Linked DNA regions of Homo sapiens: region 2 is linked to region 1. Evidence: fine-mapped expression QTL. Tissue or cell type: whole blood. Region 1 holds a variant in brackets; the other region holds the start of a gene. All regions are shown on one strand. Distances are from middle to middle. Region 1 overlaps SDC2 (syndecan 2). Region 2 holds the start of SDC2 (syndecan 2).

What was found.
Region 2: SDC2 starts here. The variant in region 1 is fine-mapped to the expression of SDC2 in whole blood (TOPMed, PIP above 0.99).

Annotation. Positions count from the first base shown.
Region 1 is chr8:96,520,063-96,529,611 of GRCh38, forward strand. All of the region lies in intron 1 of SDC2 (syndecan 2), which reads left to right. Among named protein-coding and RNA genes, the nearest start is that of SDC2, 31 kb to the left of the region's middle. RefSeq lists a silencer at 319-613 and an enhancer at 627-1,127. The variant C/T (reference allele first, on the strand shown) is at 4,666.
Region 2 is chr8:96,489,532-96,499,080 of GRCh38, forward strand. SDC2 (syndecan 2) reads left to right here and starts at 4,282. Exons shown (of 5, transcript NM_002998.4): 1 at 4,282-4,800. The coding sequence starts at 4,741.

The DNA of each region.
Region 1 (9,549 bases):
GCCTTTCTCACGGGACTTCCTGGAACAAGATGACTTTTGTTGGGTAGAGCTGATATAAGAATCCAGCCAATGAAACTGTAGTGACAACTTTTTACTTTTAAAAGTATATATTGTAAAAAGCTCTCTTGAATCTACAAATAGAATCCATTTTACTAAAGCTAGGGTGTTAGTCACATTATATTTCCAAGAAAACACAGTATAATTGTCACTTTCAAGGGCCATCGAACTGAAGTAGAGAAAGGTGGTGACTTTATGGGAACACCAGATTAGTATTAGAAATTAGCGTGAGATCTATACATTTAGCAGTTTCTAAAGGTGATTTCTGCTGCTTCACTCACTCTTACTGTTTCTTGAAGTATTGATTGTCAAAGTGATTAGAGGAGCAGTAATAATTCATTTACAGGGAGTCTTACTGCCTTTTCCTTTCCAGAGCCTCTCCTCACATTCCCAAGCTGTTTATATGTGATGTTCAGCTTGTGGACAGGGTGTGTGCTTATGTTTTAAGTATTTGCTTCTGGAGAGCTAGCTAGAAAAAGCAAAACAGAGAAACCCATTGGCGTGTTGAGAGTTGAATCCACAAGAAGATGTTGTTTGCAATGTGCCGAAAACATAAGGTCCAAACAGCCGGAACAGGCCTGGTGCCAGGCAATTTCACTGTGAGAGAAAGAGGAGGTCTGATGCAGTTCTCTAAGGATTAGCTGCAACTCAGCAGCTGCTGTCTGAGTTTGATTATGCACATCCTGAGACCTGCATTAACCCTTGTGCCCCTGGGGGAACCTCAGGGCTGTCTTCTAAACAAAGGACTTTTCCCCTGGACACCCAGGGGCAAAAGCCAAAACAATATGGAGGTTAAAAGAAGGCGGAGCTCTGGGAGACTGGATTTGAGAGAACAATCTAGGAAGGAAACGGATTGTAGAATTTTGGAACTGCAAGTGCCTTTTAAGACCCTTTCATTTTATTGATCAAGAAGCAGAGGCTCAGAGAAGTTAGGTGACTTGCCCAAGGAGAATCAGTCAAAACTTAAGTCCAGGTGTCTTCATTCCCAGCTAAGCTGTTTCATGCAGCACCACATCCCTAATGGGATGATTTTCACATTCGTATAAATAATATGTTGTGTATTTTTGAAAACTGCGCTGAGAGGAAACCAAAAGCATTTTTGAATTATGTGTTAATCACTTCTTATAGACTGTCCAGGGATATTCAGATTTTTCTTTCAAATAACATTTTATTAGTGTGTAAGTCTTAATAAGTGACAGGTAAATAGATCATTCCAGTAGCTACCATGTATGATTCATAAAGGCAGAACAGGCGTCCTGGGAAGGTGTTAGGAGGGAAAGCTCGGATCTAGGGAGACTGCTCTGAAAACAAGGAAGGATGTTTATGGAATGAACTCTTTTGTTCAACCATGGCGATGTCTGGATCAGGGCAGCCTTGGAGGATTTATGGCCTCCAGTCTGGAGAAGGTAGGTGGGCTCGCATTATCTGTGTTGTAAGAAAAGTGTGTGAGGTCTTTGAGCCTAAGGCTGTCCAGGTAACAAAAGACTCTGTCAAAAAAATATGTCTATTTAGAGTTCTTTGAGAGTAATATGTTGCTATTTATTTCACATCTGTGTCGGGTATTGAGCATTTTCCTTGCTTTGCGGTTGTAACAAGATCCTCAGCTTTCTTCCTTTTAAAGGTTGGGGAGCTAATTTCTTGTAGGAAATAACACATTAAATCCAAGCGTATCACTAAAACATGTGTGCCTTCTCTTTTTGCTCAATTAAAAGATTGAGCTGTTCGTGTTTTGTTTGATATGGGGGTACTTATTGAACATTGTCAACCTAAAGCATTTTGAGTAACCAAGAGAAAAATCAGGATGGCCTAATTCACTAAAATTCCAAGTACATTTGGGATGTATTTTTATACTTCTTAATTATGAGATTTTAAATTGCTTTATTTTTAAAGGTTGAGTGTGAGCTGAGTGTGTGTCTTTTTCTGTAGTCCTACCATCCTTTCTGCAAAACTCAAGTGAAAATTATTTATTTAGGATGCCCTATTGAGATATAGTGGAATGTCTTTGTTTGCATTTATTCTTTTTCTGGGATTTTGGTTATATCTATAGCTGTAAATAAAGGGGAAAGGAAGGCTTGGAGTGCATGTTAGGACAAGAGGTCCCAAGTAGGAAAAAAAGTCTTGCCTTAGAGCTATGCCTTGGGAAGTGCTTTTTATTTAGTAACCTAATCAGGACATGCCTGTGTCTATTTATTGTTGGATGAGCTTTTGAAGTACATATTGCCTGAAAGAGAATTTTTCAAGTGGTTACCTATTTTTTTTTTTTTCTCCTCTGGCTGGAGAAAAGTTAGAACAGAAGGGAACGCCGTGTATTATTTTTGTTGTTCTTCACTAAAGACATAGTCTTGGCTACTTCGGAAAAAGAAGGAAGGTATGAAATGGTGGTTAATCCTTTCCTCCATTTTGTCCCCAATTGCTTGCAGTGTCTCTTCACCCTATCGAGAAACACTTTCTCAAAGCTGTCTCTGTACTGTGCTGATATCAGAGGAGTCAACTAAAAGTGATTTTCTCTGTAGACAGTTATTCTAGTTTATGGGATGTATTATAAAACTATTGGGGAAAATCACTGAACTACTAAGGTAAGGGAAATAGCTTAAGGATCTATGATCCATATTTGAAATAGTCATTAAGTTATATAATTGGATTTTTAGAGAACAAGATAGAGCAGTTTCAGGATGTAAGGTGTAAAATAAATCTGGTCCATGAACTGCTTCCAAATTGTCACCCTGACCAGAAGAAGTAACATTCCTCAGGTTGTGGCTTTATCTAGAAAGGGGAAATGGCTATTTCTGGATTAGCTTTATACAAATGAGTGTATTTCCCACCTGCTGCTTTTGCCTAGGGTTGGAATTTTTCCTTTTCACTGCTTGTTACTTGGCGTTTGGATGGAAACGTATCCTCCCTTTCAGAGCCAGAAGATTCTGTGTGAGTCATCAAGAAAAATTTCTCCGAGGAGTTATTAATTCAGTTAGTTGCTCCATAGTAAATGGTTCATGCAACAGTGATAAACCTCTGAATTTGAAATCTTTCTTTAAAATCTTTTTTCCTTCAAAAAATGCATACAGTGGATTGCTGAGCATCTAAAATCCCGCACTGTTCAGCACTGTCATTCTTGGTAATTGCTTTTTAGAGGATTTGGTGGTGTTTTGCTGCTTAAGCTAAACCACGAAGTTAAACTTTTGTACTGTGGAAGTAGTTCATGAATCCTTTAGATTTCTTGGAAGAGGAAAGATGAGTGTGTGGTGAATATATATGAATATCGCATATTTGAATGTGTTACTTACTAGTTTTGGTTGAGCATTAAGGTTGCCCCTAATGGATGGGATCTCTGCCAGGGGTAACTCTTGGAGTCCTAGGTGCTATTGGGGAGGAACCTTTCATTCTCGGCATTCTGGGGGAGATTTACATCTGTAAGCCGGATAAAAATATGTGGAAAGGTGATTAGTTTAATTGGCCCACTATTATAATTATTCAGTAGGAGGTGGCTGTGGGACTGCTATTATAGCCCAAAATGCCTGGTAGGAAGAGGCGGAGACTCATTGAAAACAGCAGCAAGGTTATAAAACGTTGGTTTAAACGTGCATTTAATAACAGATTACCCTGGTGCTTTAAAGACAGAGGAATGCTTAAGTATTTGGTACAAGAATCCATCCAAAAAAAGACGCGGATTTTTTTTCAAAGATAATTGTGGGAAATTCTGCTAATGATTTCTTTTCCCTTAAAATATCATACAGGGGAGTAGGATTTAGGTAGGTGTAAAGTTGCTCAACGTGTTGGTAACTTTAAGATTATTTCTTCTCTGGTTGTTGCCACAGACACTCAGGGTGGCCACAATGGTGGTGTTGTTTTAGGCTTCTTTCAAAAAAGAAGTCCAGTCCAGGATAATGTTGTAAAGTGGAGTATTTTTCTTTCACATCAAAGGGCAAGGAATGTTTTACAGACAGTGAGCTAAGAAGTAGGGCACAGATATTTCAGTACTTGCGTTGGGAAACTATGTGTGGAATGTCATAGTTCATATACCAGAGACCCCGAAGTGAATCCAGGTGCCTGCACGGTGCTGACTTTTCCTGGAGTGAGATGACTGTAGGCAGAAATTGCAGCCAGATGAACCTAAAATAAAATTGATGGCTTTATTGGACATTCTTTTCATGAGATTTAACTTCTTAACGTGCACATACATCACTCTGGGGATGTCATTATCATGGCTGACCTTTCGTTTGGGGGAGCTGCTGCTCGCTGTCTGTGCAGCTCCGATCAGCTTGGCTTTGATTACCACCCACATCTGTTGAGCATGTGAGAGAGAGATTTTGAAAAATCTCAAGCACACTGACAACTGGCTACAAAGATTTAATTAAGACCGGTCAGAACTAATTTCAGTTATATATTCCAGTTTAGGGTATCAACTCCTCTGGTTTCAGAAGGGGGAGTTATGACTTCCTAAAAGTTGTTGTTGAAGGCAGCATGAGGAAATCTCCTTGGGCAAGCAGTGGGTTTCTTTGTCCTAGCTCCCCCACTGCTACCTGGGGTTAATGATTGCAGGGTGGCTGGCGTAATGAACCAGTGCCGGAAAGCTTATTATCAACATGCTGAAGTCATATTTAGAAATCATTC[C/T]TCCTCCTTTTTTCTCCTTTCCAATACAAGTCAGAGCACTGCTGTGGTTCCACCTAATAAATACTGCAGGCTTCATTGGGCTGTTCAATGAGACCTAATATAGTATCATTTGTGCACTTTAGTGGGTGGTTCCTATTTATATTTTTGTGTGGTTTACTGCTCAATCTTGGGAAGATGTGGGGTTTGAGGGTTTATCAGTTGCAGTTTTTTGTGGAACCAGTTTGAGTGAGACAAGACTTTGGCCATTATTTGTCGGGTTACATGGATCTCCATATGAGCTATGAAGATACTGGAATAATTGGGTCACAATAATGTAAAATCGTAGTCTGTACTTTCAGCTCATTCCAGAGGAATGATTGGAAGCCCTGCTCTCCCTCTCTTCTGCATGCAAACCTCAGGTGTGATTTCGGCCTGTGCCCAAGTGTTCTTGAAATGTTCAAGGCTGTCCGTTCCCACTCTGTGATGAGGCTTCCGGTTGATGTGTGACATCACTTAGGGCAGGAACTGGCACTGTCTTGATCCTGGCTGTCCTAGAGAAGCTTCTGTGCTTGGCCTTGGGAAGCCACCCCATTTGGTGCTGCTGTAGTCTCCTTTCTGCTCCTCTTTTAACAGCTGCCTCCCACCTGTGCTCACTTCCACCTGCAGGCCTTGTTTTCCAGTGGCACTGGAGTGCCATGCTGAGGTCACTGGACAAGTTCCTTATCAGAGCCCCCTTCCCATTAGAGTGAGGCTGCACCCCATCCTGCCTGGGCTTACTTTGTGCGTTGCTTGGGGGCATGGAGAAGGTTCTTGCCCTTGCTGCTTTATATGAGGTCCAATTCCTCCAGTGTTTGCCATCTCCTTTAGAGCTCTCTGGTGACAAAACCTTCTTCAGCTTGTCTACCCTCCAGGCTGGTGAGTTGAACTCAGACTGGTGCTCGGAAAGGTTAAAGGACTTGTCCAAGATGTTACCTTACTGGCAAACTGCATTCCCAAGTCTTTATTGATCTCCGAGGGCATCTCTTAATTTGTTGGAGTTTTCTTTTCCTGGAAAAAATACTGCTTGGGTCTCAGTTTCTCCACATATAAAATCAGAATAAGACCATAAATTCATGTAGTTGAAAGGGGCGGTTTCAGGAAGAAAACTAAGATAATGAAAGCCTCCGGAAAAGGGTCTGGGACGACATTATTTACAGAGTACTTTCCACACATTGTCAGGGTGGGGCCGCACAGGAACCTTGTGGGGTAGGCATCATTGACCTGTTTCAAAAATGAACAAAGTCAGTCCCAGAGACCTTGAATGGAGGCTTATCAAAGCTAAGCATACGGCTTCAAGTTTAACCGTCAAATGGTAGAGTTAGTCATGGCTTTTGGATGTGCGGGCCAGGCATGGTGCAGGGCCAGGTATGTTTTAGCCTTGTGGTTCTTTTCCTGATATTTCGGTCCTGTGGGCCTCCCCAAAGTGGCTTTGCACCTATGTTTGTTATGGGCATAAGGAAGTTAGAATTCTATGAATATGTACTGATTTTTTGTGATTCTGAATTTAAATAGGCCTCTATAAAGCTAATACTTGAAGTTTTGTTGTAATGAAGCATCACAAATACTTTTACATAGGAAAAAGGACCAAGCTGATCTCCTTAAAGCGGTTGCAAAAACCACCCAGTTGTTATACGATTGTTTGTTTCATGTTTCTTGTTATGTGGCATATTTCCAGTAAGTGGAGGGACCAAATATTTTATAGTTACAGAAACTTCTTCTCTCCCTCCTTGAAGTTTAAAAAAGTGGATCAAATGTCTGCCTATTTTCAAGGAGGCAGGGAGACAGAAGATCTTTTCCAGATTGCAGGAAGGCCAACGCAGGTTGCACCCAGAGAACTATGGAAACCACTGTTGAGGAGGAAGGAATTGGGTGAAAATTAAAGAATCAAGCTAGTAAAAGTGAAAAGAGGCCTTTGGTTTTTTTTTTTGGACAGTTTTTAAGGGCCTTCATAAATACTTGGTGTACTCCTCAAAGACCAAGCGTTGAAGGGTTAAGTCAGGGAACTAAAACTTGGATTGTGTGTTGACCCCTGTGTAGCTGTGGCCAGGGCTCCTGATTTTCCCCTGACGATCCATTGGTAGAACAAGGCCAGTGGTACTGTTTTCTGGTGCAGGGGAGGCTCGGACCTGCAGGGGAGTTACGGAGGCTGGCCACTGGTTTGGAGCAGACAGGTAAGTAGCCTCTAGGGAGGTGGTAGCTCTGTACAACAGTCTGTTCCCAATGTCTGGGTGACTCTTGTTCCCAATACTTGGCTCTCTTTTTGGATGTCAGAGTCATATTCTTCATTCTCCATGTCTCCTGCTAATTTTTGGCATTGACCCATCCAGGATTTATTTCAGCAGCTAGCATGGTGCCTGACCTATCCATAGTAGGTGCTTAGTAAATACTGCACTCCACAGGGGGAAGAGGGCAGGCACGTTCTGCCTATTGACGTGGTGGGAAGAGAGACCGTGCTTAGGGACAGGTTTGGGAGCTTCATTATTTCTGCCTTGGGACTGTTTGAATGCACCCTATTTTGCTATAGGGGAAACACTGCAATAACATAAATCCCACTTGAATCATTCTTTGTTCTATCACCCCTGCCCTTATCACTGCTCTTGTAAGACAGACATCATAGGAGACTCCTAATCCTCTCCCTGCCTCTGGTGGGTGCATGACACTGATCTAGCTTCCACTTGCACAGTTCTCTCTCTCTCTGCCCCTAAAACAGAAATATGATCATGTTATTCTCCTACTTACATGCCCGTCAGTGGCTCCCCAGTGCCGTACTGCTGTGGCACACAGAACCCTACGTGATCTGGTCCTGCGTGCTCTGTAAGTGGCAAGTCCCAGGGCCTCTTCGTGCAGGCTGTTCAAGGGGGTCTCATAACCTACCAGTCCGAGTTAGACTTGTTGAGTCTTAAAACCAAGCTGCTTTGAGTTGGGTCTTCAGATGAACTGGGAATCAACATATTTGGGATGGATCTGTAGGGTGCATTTAAAAGGCACTGAATGTTTGGAATGGAGTGCAAGAATTAATGTTAAGTTACCAGAGAAAATTGAGGTATTAAGGGATCTGCGCATATAGTTTTCAAAAATCAATTAAACAAAAAGCCTGTTTTTTAACTGATTCTATAGTTCATTTGGAAGACTATGTATATTACATTATATCATATATCTACATGTGTGATATATTTATAATAGAAAAATGAAGCAGAAACTTCTACTACCAAATATTAAAACACATTATAAAGTGCTGATAAAAGATGATGATGTGGGCATAAAAACATGCAAATAATCCAACAAAATAGCACTTTTCAAAACTTTTTTTAGCGTATGGAATAACTTAATTATAAGTCGTTGGGGAAGGAACAGATTATTTGATGAAGGGGGTTGTGAAATTGGGTATTTTAAAAAATCTATTTATATCTTTGCTTTGGTGACACACCAAAATATCTTTCATACGGATTGGATTTAAGTATATATATTTAAAGCTCTAAGCGAGAAAAAAAATGTGGAGAAAATTTGATCTCTGAGAAAGAGGATTTTTTTTAAGCCTAAAAGCCAAAAACTCTAAGTGATTGCTCAACTTAAGTACATAACAGTATTCATTTTACTGAAGAATTACAAATAACTAATAATGATCACTAGAACAGAAAAATGTCAAAAGAAAAAACACACGGTATTCATTGTCCTCTCATAAAATTAAGAAAGATTTAGAAAATGCAAATACTCAGTGCTCATAACAATATGGTTAGATTTTCAACACTTTCTAAAAGGAAAAATGTTAAAATAAATTCCAAAGAAAAAATTTTTTAAATGGTTTGGTTTTTACATATACTGGGGAAACTTACTATTTAAAGACTAGAGTTAATTATTTCAAAATAAAAATAGTCTTTCTAATTTTAGTTTCATAATGTTGTTTTTTAATCTTTGTTTGATTTTAAACAACCTTTTAGTCTTTGGGCTGTCCAAAATTATAAATTATATGTCTGTAATTTACTATTGTTAATCATACAGTTCTCCATATAAAAAATGGCAGAGAGAAAAACTGGAAAAATATGCCCTGTGAAGGGGATTTATGATCCTTAATATCCCAGAAGAAGACCATAATGAGGCATCTTATGTAACAGAGAAGTCATATAGGGCTTCAGTTTCTAAAGTGCTCAAATTTTAATTCATAGTGTGACTTTGAACAGGCTACTTTACCTCTCTTGGTCTCAGTGTCTTCATCTGTGAAATGGGAGGGTTGGGTTAGATCAGTTTCCCAGCTGAGATGCCCCGGCACAGCTGTGCCAAAATTCTGATGCCCCTCGGCCCTAAAGACAGCTGGACAGAGCTGGGGTGGAGGCCCTAGGTCAGTTACTTCCACCCAAGGGCAGCCATTTGTTTTTCCCAAGGAAAATAGTACCACAAATCACTCTCAATGCACTCTTAGATAATGAGTTGTCTTACTTTTAAATTCAAGAGGTGAGAGCTACATGGAAGAGGAGATAATTTTGGACATCACAGTGAACCATTCGTCCTTCCCAGTCAATATTCAATAGGTATGTTAAAAAATGAATGGAAGAAAACACATCAAAATGTTATTAGTAATTATCTCTGGTGATTGACTTACAGGTAATTTTTATTTGCTTATTTATAATATTCCGCCTCATTCAAATTTACTGTTAAGAATTTGTTAAATTTAAATAAGAAAAGTTATTTAAAACAAATCCCAACCTGTACCCATTTTTACATTTAAAAACTCCATGAGTACGAGTGACGGCTATGGCTGTCAGAGTTAAGAATCTAACAAAAATAAAACGGCAAACATGGACCCATTTCACATTATGGAAATATCCTGGGATATTTTCATTCCAAGGTTTCTTGCTCAGTGCTTACTTT
Region 2 (9,549 bases), 31 kb before region 1:
AAAAATGTATTAACTCTAACAAGGTTCAAGAAAATTCATGTGCCTACCCAGTGAGTACCTGAGTTGCAGCAGGTGATCCATACATATTTGTTGACTGAATGTCAAATTTTGCCAGCCTTTAAAGAACCATACCACACTGTTAGAAAAACTGACATGAAGGGCCAAGTGTGATGGCTCACACCTGTAATCTCAGACCCTTCGGAGGCCAAGGGGGAGGATCACTTGAGTCTAGGAGTTCGATGCCAGCCTGGGCAATATAGTGAGCCCTCGTCTCTAAAAAAAGAAAAAAAGAAAAAAAAGAAAAAGAAAAACAGAAGTAACTGTTTTATCTCCTGTCTTATTTTATGTATTATACACTTCCTTGATTTTCCTGTGTCCTCCTATCCAAAACTGTAACAATTTTGTTCAACATTAGCACCATATCATTTTATGAAACTCAAATCAGCCAACTTCTCTGGGAAGGGGTTGATGGAGGTGAATAAAGAGAACAGTGGAAAGTTTGAGGCTGAAAATAGACTTTTTTTTTTTTTTTTTGGAGACAGAGTCTCGCTCTGTTGCCCAGGCTGGAGTACGGTGGCATGATCTCGGCTCACTGCAACTTCTACCTCCCGGGTTCAAGCAATTCTCCTGCCTCAGCCTCCCAAGTAGCTGCGACTACAGGTGCCCGCCATCACACCTGGCTAATTTTTGTTGTGTTGTTCTTAGTAAAGACGGGGTTTCACCGTGTTGCCCAGGCTGGTCTTGAACTTCTGAGCTCAGGCAATCTGCCTGCCTCGGCCTCCCAAAGTGCTAGGATTACAGGTGTGAGCCACCGCGCCAGGCCTGAAAATAGATTTTTTTGGATTGCCTGTAGATTTTGGTCATGGCCTCAGCTCACTTGCCAGTATTAGCGATGGCTCATTAATGGTTGGCTGGATGGATATCCTATTCCTCTCAGCTTCTATCATCTTTCAAGTGAATTTCATAAGAGCCAATCCTACCAAATTGATTTCTAGCCTGGACTCCTGGTAACAGTCCAGGGGGTGCCAAGTGGAAGAACAACCGAGAACAACAGAATGGCATCTTTTTTTTCCGCTATCCCCTACTCTGACAACTCACCTCAGGACAGAACACCTGTTTATCCACGGTTGTAATGTGGTATCATTTGTTACCGTAGTGACAGAGTCCGATGTGTCAGTTTAGGTTAAAAACTGTCTTTAGTAGCTTTCATTTCTATTTTTTCACTTGTCTGGTTCTCTTTATTTTTTATTTGTTTTTACATGTTTGCATCTTAATCTCTATGTTGTTTATTTTTAATATTTTCTCCTGAGACTCTTGAAGTGTGGTAATTATTCTTTTAGCAATCAATGAAGCTATTTGGGAAGTGATTGGTTAAGCTGTGCCCCTCAAAGCATAGCCCTCAAAACCTGAGGACTTGAAGTATATTTGCAAAGAACCTTTGGTTCTAGTCACAAGCTATACTTAGTGAATTAGATATACTACACAAAATTCTGCCAAATTTTAGTCCCCATCAGTTTTTTAAACATTTCCAATTAGCAAAACACACAAACAGGCCTACATCGTTTGCGAATTTAGACAAATCCTGACTAATACCAGCGGACCTCCCCTGACTTCTGTCCCCATCCCCACTCAGCATGGGTGACCTCTTTGTAGCCAGCTCTTGTGTAAGTGCTTTTTATACTGTCAGATTATCCTTCTTGCCACAGCTGTTAATAAATCTGAACACAAGATCTTGAATATTTGTTTTCATCTCCTTAATATTGTGTCACTCAAAATGGTACCAATTCCCTTATTATATATACTCTCAATGGAGTATTTATCATCTTTAAAGAAACAAGTCACTGAGCATCTCATCAACACCAAGAGCCTTGGGGTGTGCCTTCAGGGCAGCAAACAGATAATATCCCTTCAACACGTGTATCCACTTATTCATTTTTTATCACTGTCTGCCCAAGCTGAATCAGAGAGCATTCACCACGCTTCTTGTTACATGGGTGCCCCAGTAAACAGCAATAACTGTGAGAACCAGCAAATCAGTGGAGTGCACTTCCTGTTTTACTGGAATTCCAATTTATTTGATGAATACTTAACTGTTGGGGACAATGGAGGTGTGGCCTTGCCTGAAGGCTGGCGAGTAGACGAGGCCTCTTATGAGGACAGAGCTGGTATTTTATGGCTCTTTGCATGTATTTTGCATTGCTGCTTTTCCTTTGGAGGCCTTTTTAAGAAGTCTCCCCATCTCATGAACCTCTTCAACCCACAGACTCCATCTTAAAAATAAGGGCACTAGGCTGGTGGCTCACGTGTCTAATCCCAGGACTTTGGGAGGCTGAGGCAGGCAGATCACTTGAGCCCAAGAGTTTGAGACCAGCCTGGGCAACAATGGAAAACCCTGTCTCTATAAAAAACACAAAAATTAGCTGGTGTGGTGGCCTGTGCCTGTAGTCCCAGCTACTTGGTAAGCTGAGGTGGGAGGACTGCTTGAGCCTGAGAGGTAGAGGCTACAGTGCAGGCCACTGCACTCCAGCCTGGGCAAGAATGAGACCCTGTCTCAAAAAAAAAAAAAAAAAAAAAAAAGGCTGTGGTTCATTCTTTCAAAAGCTAAGTGGAGCCCACATTGGCACAGATGCCAGCTACAGTGTCTGTGGAATCAGAAGCATCATCTGATGTTACAACTTCTGGCCTATTGCTCTTTTTCTTCTTTCTCCTTTGCCTACTCTTCTATTTCTCCATATTACCTTTTTGTTGGCCAATGCCTTAGACTTGCTCATGAGCATTTGTAGGTTTGGTAGCTGGCACACAAAACCAAAGGAATAAGTGTCTCCAAGTTTGAGTTGTAATTCTCCAGTTAAATTTCTTTCTTTGAGATTTATTACAGTAATAGGTTACTAAGACATTTAATTCTCACTGAGGGTATGACTGTATTTTATTCTAATACTGAGTTGAAAAATTACCATGGCCTCATATCTATATATCTACATTGGTGTATTTTAAAGGCTCACAACTCTTATACGGTATAAATTGAGCTTTAGAGCAAAATTTATTCAAGATAATATTTATCATGTGTCTTTATGTACCAGGAATGAGAATACAATGGTGAACAGACAGAAAAGTCTCTGGTTTCCTGTAGTGGGCATTCCAGGAGCAGAATGGCGTCATAATTCATTTACTCTATAAGTCAGAGAGAAAAATGATGGCACGAACTGCAAGGGATTTGTGTGTAAAATTTGTGACAGTAAGAAAAAGAAACTGGAAGGGAATACGCATTTGCCATGTTCTATAATATGCCACAGACATTGTAACAAAATATTTCATGTCAGCTACTTCCATTTAGGAAATACATGTTCATTATTTTCTTCAAACTAAGAATTACTTTATCCCTCTTTTCTTTGAAGTTATCTTAAATCTGTTATTATTCAGGGTCTCTATCCAACTTCTCATCAAATTACCCTATTTGTAGCTTCCAAACGTTAACACCTATCTGCTAAAATGGAGCCTATAAAAAGCCTTAGTGGCATAAACTGTGTGTGAGGGAGAAATGGTATTTAAGCCCTTAATGAAGTTAGGAGCTTTCAAACTGTTGCACTTTGGGTTTACAGGATCCTTCCTCCATGTCCCTTTTTTGGGGGTGCGGAAGGATTTGGGAGAATGGGAAACACTCTCACTATATATTTATTACATTAATTATCTTCTCTTTTAAAATGCAATTTTCATGAACTGGCGATTTATGAACACTTCACATTGCTTGAAAGCATCTTACACTTTTTTTTTCCCTCAACTCACAAAGCAGTTTCTTTCTACTGGTCGAATTCTCAAGGCAGAAAAGCTACATACGTCTCTCGTTTCTTCACTAATTGTTCTCTAGAAAAGGGAAAGTGAAGAAGGGAAAGAGAAAAGACAACGGGGAAGAAAAGAGCATAGAGGAGAGAGGAAAAGTGGGGAGAGAAAGGAAGAAAAGGACTGAGAAAACGCAGGAGCCCTGGCTTGCCGGTGAGCAGAGCCGGCGCAGCCACAGCGCGGAGCCGCGGCGCCCACTGGTCCTCGGAGCTGCCAATCGGCGTGTAATCCTGTAGGAATTTCTCCCGGGTTTATCTGGGAGTCACACTGCCGCCTCCTCTCCCCAGTCGCCCAGGGGAGCCCGGAGAAGCAGGCTCAGGAGGGAGGGAGCCAGAGGAAAAGAAGAGGAGGAGAAGGAGGAGGACCCGGGGAGGGAGGCGCGGCGCGGGAGGAGGAGGGGCGCAGCCGCGGAGCCAGTGGCCCCGCTTGGACGCGCTGCTCTCCAGATACCCCCGGAGCTCCAGCCGCGCGGATCGCGCGCTCCCGCCGCTCTGCCCCTAAACTTCTGCCGTAGCTCCCTTTCAAGCCAGCGAATTTATTCCTTAAAACCAGAAACTGAACCTCGGCACGGGAAAGGAGTCCGCGGAGGAGCAAAACCACAGCAGAGCAAGAAGAGCTTCAGAGAGCAGCCTTCCCGGAGCACCAACTCCGTGTCGGGAGTGCAGAAACCAACAAGTGAGAGGGCGCCGCGTTCCCGGGGCGCAGCTGCGGGCGGCGGGAGCAGGCGCAGGAGGAGGAAGCGAGCGCCCCCGAGCCCCGAGCCCGAGTCCCCGAGCCTGAGCCGCAATCGCTGCGGTACTCTGCTCCGGATTCGTGTGCGCGGGCTGCGCCGAGCGCTGGGCAGGAGGCTTCGTTTTGCCCTGGTTGCAAGCAGCGGCTGGGAGCAGCCGGTCCCTGGGGAATATGCGGCGCGCGTGGATCCTGCTCACCTTGGGCTTGGTGGCCTGCGTGTCGGCGGAGTCGGTGAGTGGGCCAGGCGGAGGATGCGCGCGCCGTTTAGGGTGTTTGAAGCTACGAGAGGAGCCCGCAGGGAATAGGGGAGCGCCACCTGGGGAACCCCCAGTCCCCAAGTATACACCGGAGATCCGCTGGGACAAATGCGCTCGTCCGGTCACCCTTTCCCCCTCTTCCCTTCCTCAGAAAAGCGCTGCTCGCTGGCGTTACCCCGCGGTCCGCGGGAATGGGGGCACCGAGAATTGCGGTTTGGTCTAGCCGCAGAGGCCCCTGAAGTCACTCCCAACTTCTTCGCCCTCGGCGGGTCTTGCTGCGTGGTCTGGGAAGGACGGAGGGGAAAGGGTGGCAGGAGGGGGGAGCCTGGGTCGGGCCCGCGAGGGAACGGCTCCACTCCGCGCGCTCCTCGAGACCAGGGATGACCTGGAAACTTCGGGGTCCCTTCCTCCGCACACCATCCCCCCCGCGCCAGCTTTCCTGTTTGACTGCATGCAAGTTCTGGGGAGATGGGGGCCAGATTTAAGAGACCCGCGAGTGTCCAGAGAGAAAAGTTTGCAAAAGTTCTTTTGTTTGATGCTCCCTGCGGCTAGGGCGAGGTAACCGACACTACGTGGAATCGCAGTAGGCGATCCCTCAAGGGGATACTGGGGGAGGCACGGAACGCGTCCGAAAATGCTGGGACGCCGGCCACTGGATTCCCAGTCCTGCGGCGACCCCCTCCTCGTTGAGGGGTGGAGGTTGCACCGCGGGGCGTCAGGGACGGGAGGACATTTTCATAGGAGTTACACGGGAGTGCCGCAAGCAGGGCGAGGCGGGGTACGTGTGACACGGCGCTCGGCTTCGGGTCGCCTGGCCGCTGGGGGACAGAGGCTTCCCTCCCGCCACGCTCGCCCTCTCTGGCCCTGGCGGGGCGCTTCTGGGGCCGGGAGGAGTCTCGTCTCCGGCGGAGCGCCTGCCGGCACCCAGCTTCCCTCCCCCGCCCTGGCGGTGGGAACTTGATTTCTCCTTTTGGTCGCGCTTCGGGGGCTGGAGCTTGTTTCCCCACGTCGCCCAATGAGCGCCCTCTAAAGGGAACTGCCTCCTTGGCCTCCTCTCGTCCGCAGCTGCCTCCACCTGGGCGCCAGGAGCTCTGTCGGGCCAGGTGGAAGCTTGAGCACCCCAGATTTCGTCTGCAGCCTCAGTGCCCTCTGGGGTCTCAGGGAGTGCGGCTGTTTCTGGCCCTTCTGGTTCCCCACGTCCTCTCCCTTTGCCATTTAATAACGTGTCAATTTCTAATTAATTGAATGGTCTTTTCAAAGACAAATTATATCATCTTAAGGTCTTTTAGGTAGTTTTATGAGTTTGAGTCTCCCTCCCCCCCTTTTTTGTGCTGAGGCTAATTTAGGACTGGGAAACCTCTTTGGCATCGAGCGGCAGATGGACATTTTTAATCAGTGTGGGAGCCTCTGTGTGTGCTAGCAGATCCCCATACGTTCTTTGTGGTTGGAGAGCATGTAGAATTGGAAACTGTACAGACTACATGAGTATTTTGGGTGCTCAGGTTGTAAAATAGAACTCCCAGCCTTATCAGTGTTTCCCTTTGGCAAATGATGGTTTAATCCGTTGGTATTAGTTATCTCCCAGCCAGTTAGGATGAACTTTGGCTCTTTGTACACCAAAAGGCAGCAGTTCTCTTGTTTATTTCAGATGAGCGTTGTTGCTCCTCTTGTTGCAAAACAGGGCAAAGGGACTTCATCTAATAAATTTCAAGAGCCTGCCTAAAAAACTGCACATGGTTAAGGAGGCCCTTTTTTTTTGCTGAGTCTTATTCATGGATTTGCTAGGAAATGTTACTGTTTTGGGATTCTGGAGAAAGAATGTTTCTGTCTTCTGCTCCTCTGGGTTTTTGCATAAATCTACCAGTGCTCCTTAAGGAAGTTTTTTGGCCGAACTATATACCTGTCCTCCCCGGTGACAGCTTTCCCCTGAACTGTGTATCTTTGGGGTTCTAATATTTCTCAATTTGAACCAGAACTGGATGCTTTCCGAGTGAACTGCTTCATTGTGATAGACACTGTTTTCAGTAATTGGAAAATCATCCAAAAAGGGTGATTAGATATTTATAAAATGTCAACTTAGAGACTAGCAGAGAATCTTTGTTAGGCAGTGAGTCAGTCTTTCTAAATAGAAGCTGTTTCAAGGCCCAGAATGGCTAACAGTCCATTTAAATTACTTTTCAGTCTCCGTTTGTTTCATGTATAGCAGCAAAAATATAAATGAAGTCAAAAGACTGAATTTAAAAAAAAATTAGCAATTACAGAATATTATTTCCAGGACTTTGCATTTTAATTTGAAAACTGCAACTGTTTCCTGGGATTTAGAAGTAGTGATTTGGGTTTAAAGTCTCCCTTTAAAGGAAGAAAGGAAAACTGCCTACAGTTAGTGAATTCTTAAGTTTTATACTTAGCTCTGGGGGTAAAAAAGAGGTTCTCAGGAACTAAGGCTCAAAACTGCCTATGAAAAGGAACTGGTAGCTGTTCCTTTATGGATCCTGGAGGCAGCTGGGAAAGCCTGTTCCTAGTGATCCATTCATACTTTCCACTGGCAGGTTAGGACTTTGGCTGCGGAGCACCAGGCAAGGGGAAAATCTGACTGAGTGTGGCAGTAGTGATATGCTGCTGGTTTTCTGTCCATTTTGTACATGACTGTTTATCTTTAGAAATAATATATTGCAGACTGCTATAAACACATAATTTGAACTGGAAATATGTTTAAGAAAAGGAAGTGTTTTGAACTAGAGGAATTTTATAAACATTCTTAGATGTCTGTAAATTAAAAGAAACTGTCAAGTCATTTGGGCCCATGCATTATCTCTCGGTGTATTATGAAAGGCAGGCTCTGGAAAGTTTGCATTAGAAGGGTAACTAAAATCGAAATCATGTAACTTTGCAGTTCTTTAGAAAATATAGTTTGGCTGTTTTATGAGTGAAACAAATTGCTTTTGCTAGGGAATTTTATAAAAACAAGGGCTCTTTCTCTCTTAGTTGGGTATTAGCAGAAGGAGGATGTCATTTAAGAAGGAAAGATCTTGAAAGATCAGGCTTGCAGAAAATGGATGTCTGAGAAGCAATTTGAGCATGCCCTTCAGCTTCTGCTTTTAGGACCTGATATGTCTAGTTTTGATGGTAACCACCCTTCGAGGGGTAGCCTACCCTGTGTAATATGATCACTTAAATGGCGCCTTGGATAATCATTAGTTTGGAAAGGATTTCAAAAGGTGAACTGGTTTGTTCCCTGGGTGGAACTAGTTTTCAAGTCTCCAAAAGCCCCCAGAGACCTGACTGGCCAGCTAGAGGTGGCTTGGAGTCTCCTTAGGTTGGCAAGGCCCCTGAAGCTGACCCAGTCACACAGAGCCCCACCAGCCCTGTCATTAAGGTTTATAGCAAGTCCAGTCAAGCCACTGTGCTGTTGGCATACCTGCTGGTGGGGATCCAGTTGTCCTGTGAGGAATGCCATCTGGGTTTAGATTCTCACTAGATTGTCCTTCTTCCATTGCCAAAAATCAAACTAAAAGATTTTGCCCATCCTTTTCTTCTTCCCAAGGCAGAAGGGTGCATTGCAGAATCTCCAAACCACTGAATTCTTTTCGTGGACTAGAGGCCAAAATAAAGTCTTAGAGAAAAGCCAGAAGTAATGAAGAAGAATCTTTGCTAAAACCAATCTACTCTTATTTAACTTTTTTAGTCAACTGTGACAGTACTATCATTTTCATTCTAATCATTTGGATTTAAATCTTGAAGAAGCCCTGGACTCATTCATCTTTGTTGGTTTCCACGTCCAGTCTGCCTCTAAGTCCAGCTGTGCATTCATTCTGCAGATATTTATTTCATACCTACTAGGTGCTTGAGGTAAAGCAGTGAGCAAACCAGGCAGATATCCCCCTGCCTTCTTGGAGCTTGCATTCTAGTGATCTTTCCGTTCATTTTTTCATGCCTTCAGTGGCCAGCGTGGAACTTCCTCAGGAGTGCCAACCGGCCCCAGAATGCCCTGGCCCATGGGAACCTGCACTTAAAGATGCAGCACCAACAGGTGTTTACCCAGCTCCTGACCTGAGCTCAGCACTGCAAAGAAGTCGGGGTTTGGAAATGTGGTCCCTTCCTGCAGCGCTAATCTTTTTTTTTTTTCCTCTTGAGATGGAGTCTCACTCTGTCACCCAGGCTGGAGTACAATGGCACTCTGCAACCACCACCTCACTGCAGCCACCTCACTGCAACCACCACCTCCCAGGTTCAAGCGATTCTCCTGCCTCAGCCTCCCGAGTAGCTGGGACTACAGGCACATGCCACTGCACCTGGCTAAATTTTGTATTTTTAGTAGGGATGGGGTTTCAACGTGTTGGCCAGGCTGGTCTCCAACTCCTGACCTCAGCTGATCCACCGCCTCGGCCACCCAAAGTGCTGGGATTATAGACGTGAGCCACTATGCCTGGCCATTGGTCTCTTCCTGCAGCACTAATCTTGATGGGACAGAAAATTTCAAATGAAGAGCTTTCCCTCTTTTTTTCTTCCTTGGGGGCATGCCAGCTTGTGCTTCTATGTCAGTAGCCTTGTAGTTGCCATTCCTGGCCCAGACACTTGCATGCAGTTTGGTTTGTCCTCCACCACTTTGATCATGTTGCCCATGGTCTAGACACCTCCGTGTCCTTGTTATCATGGCATATAGTCTGTATGCCTCTGCTGGATTTATAAGCGGCCCCATAATAGCCTTCCTTTCTGGTTACCC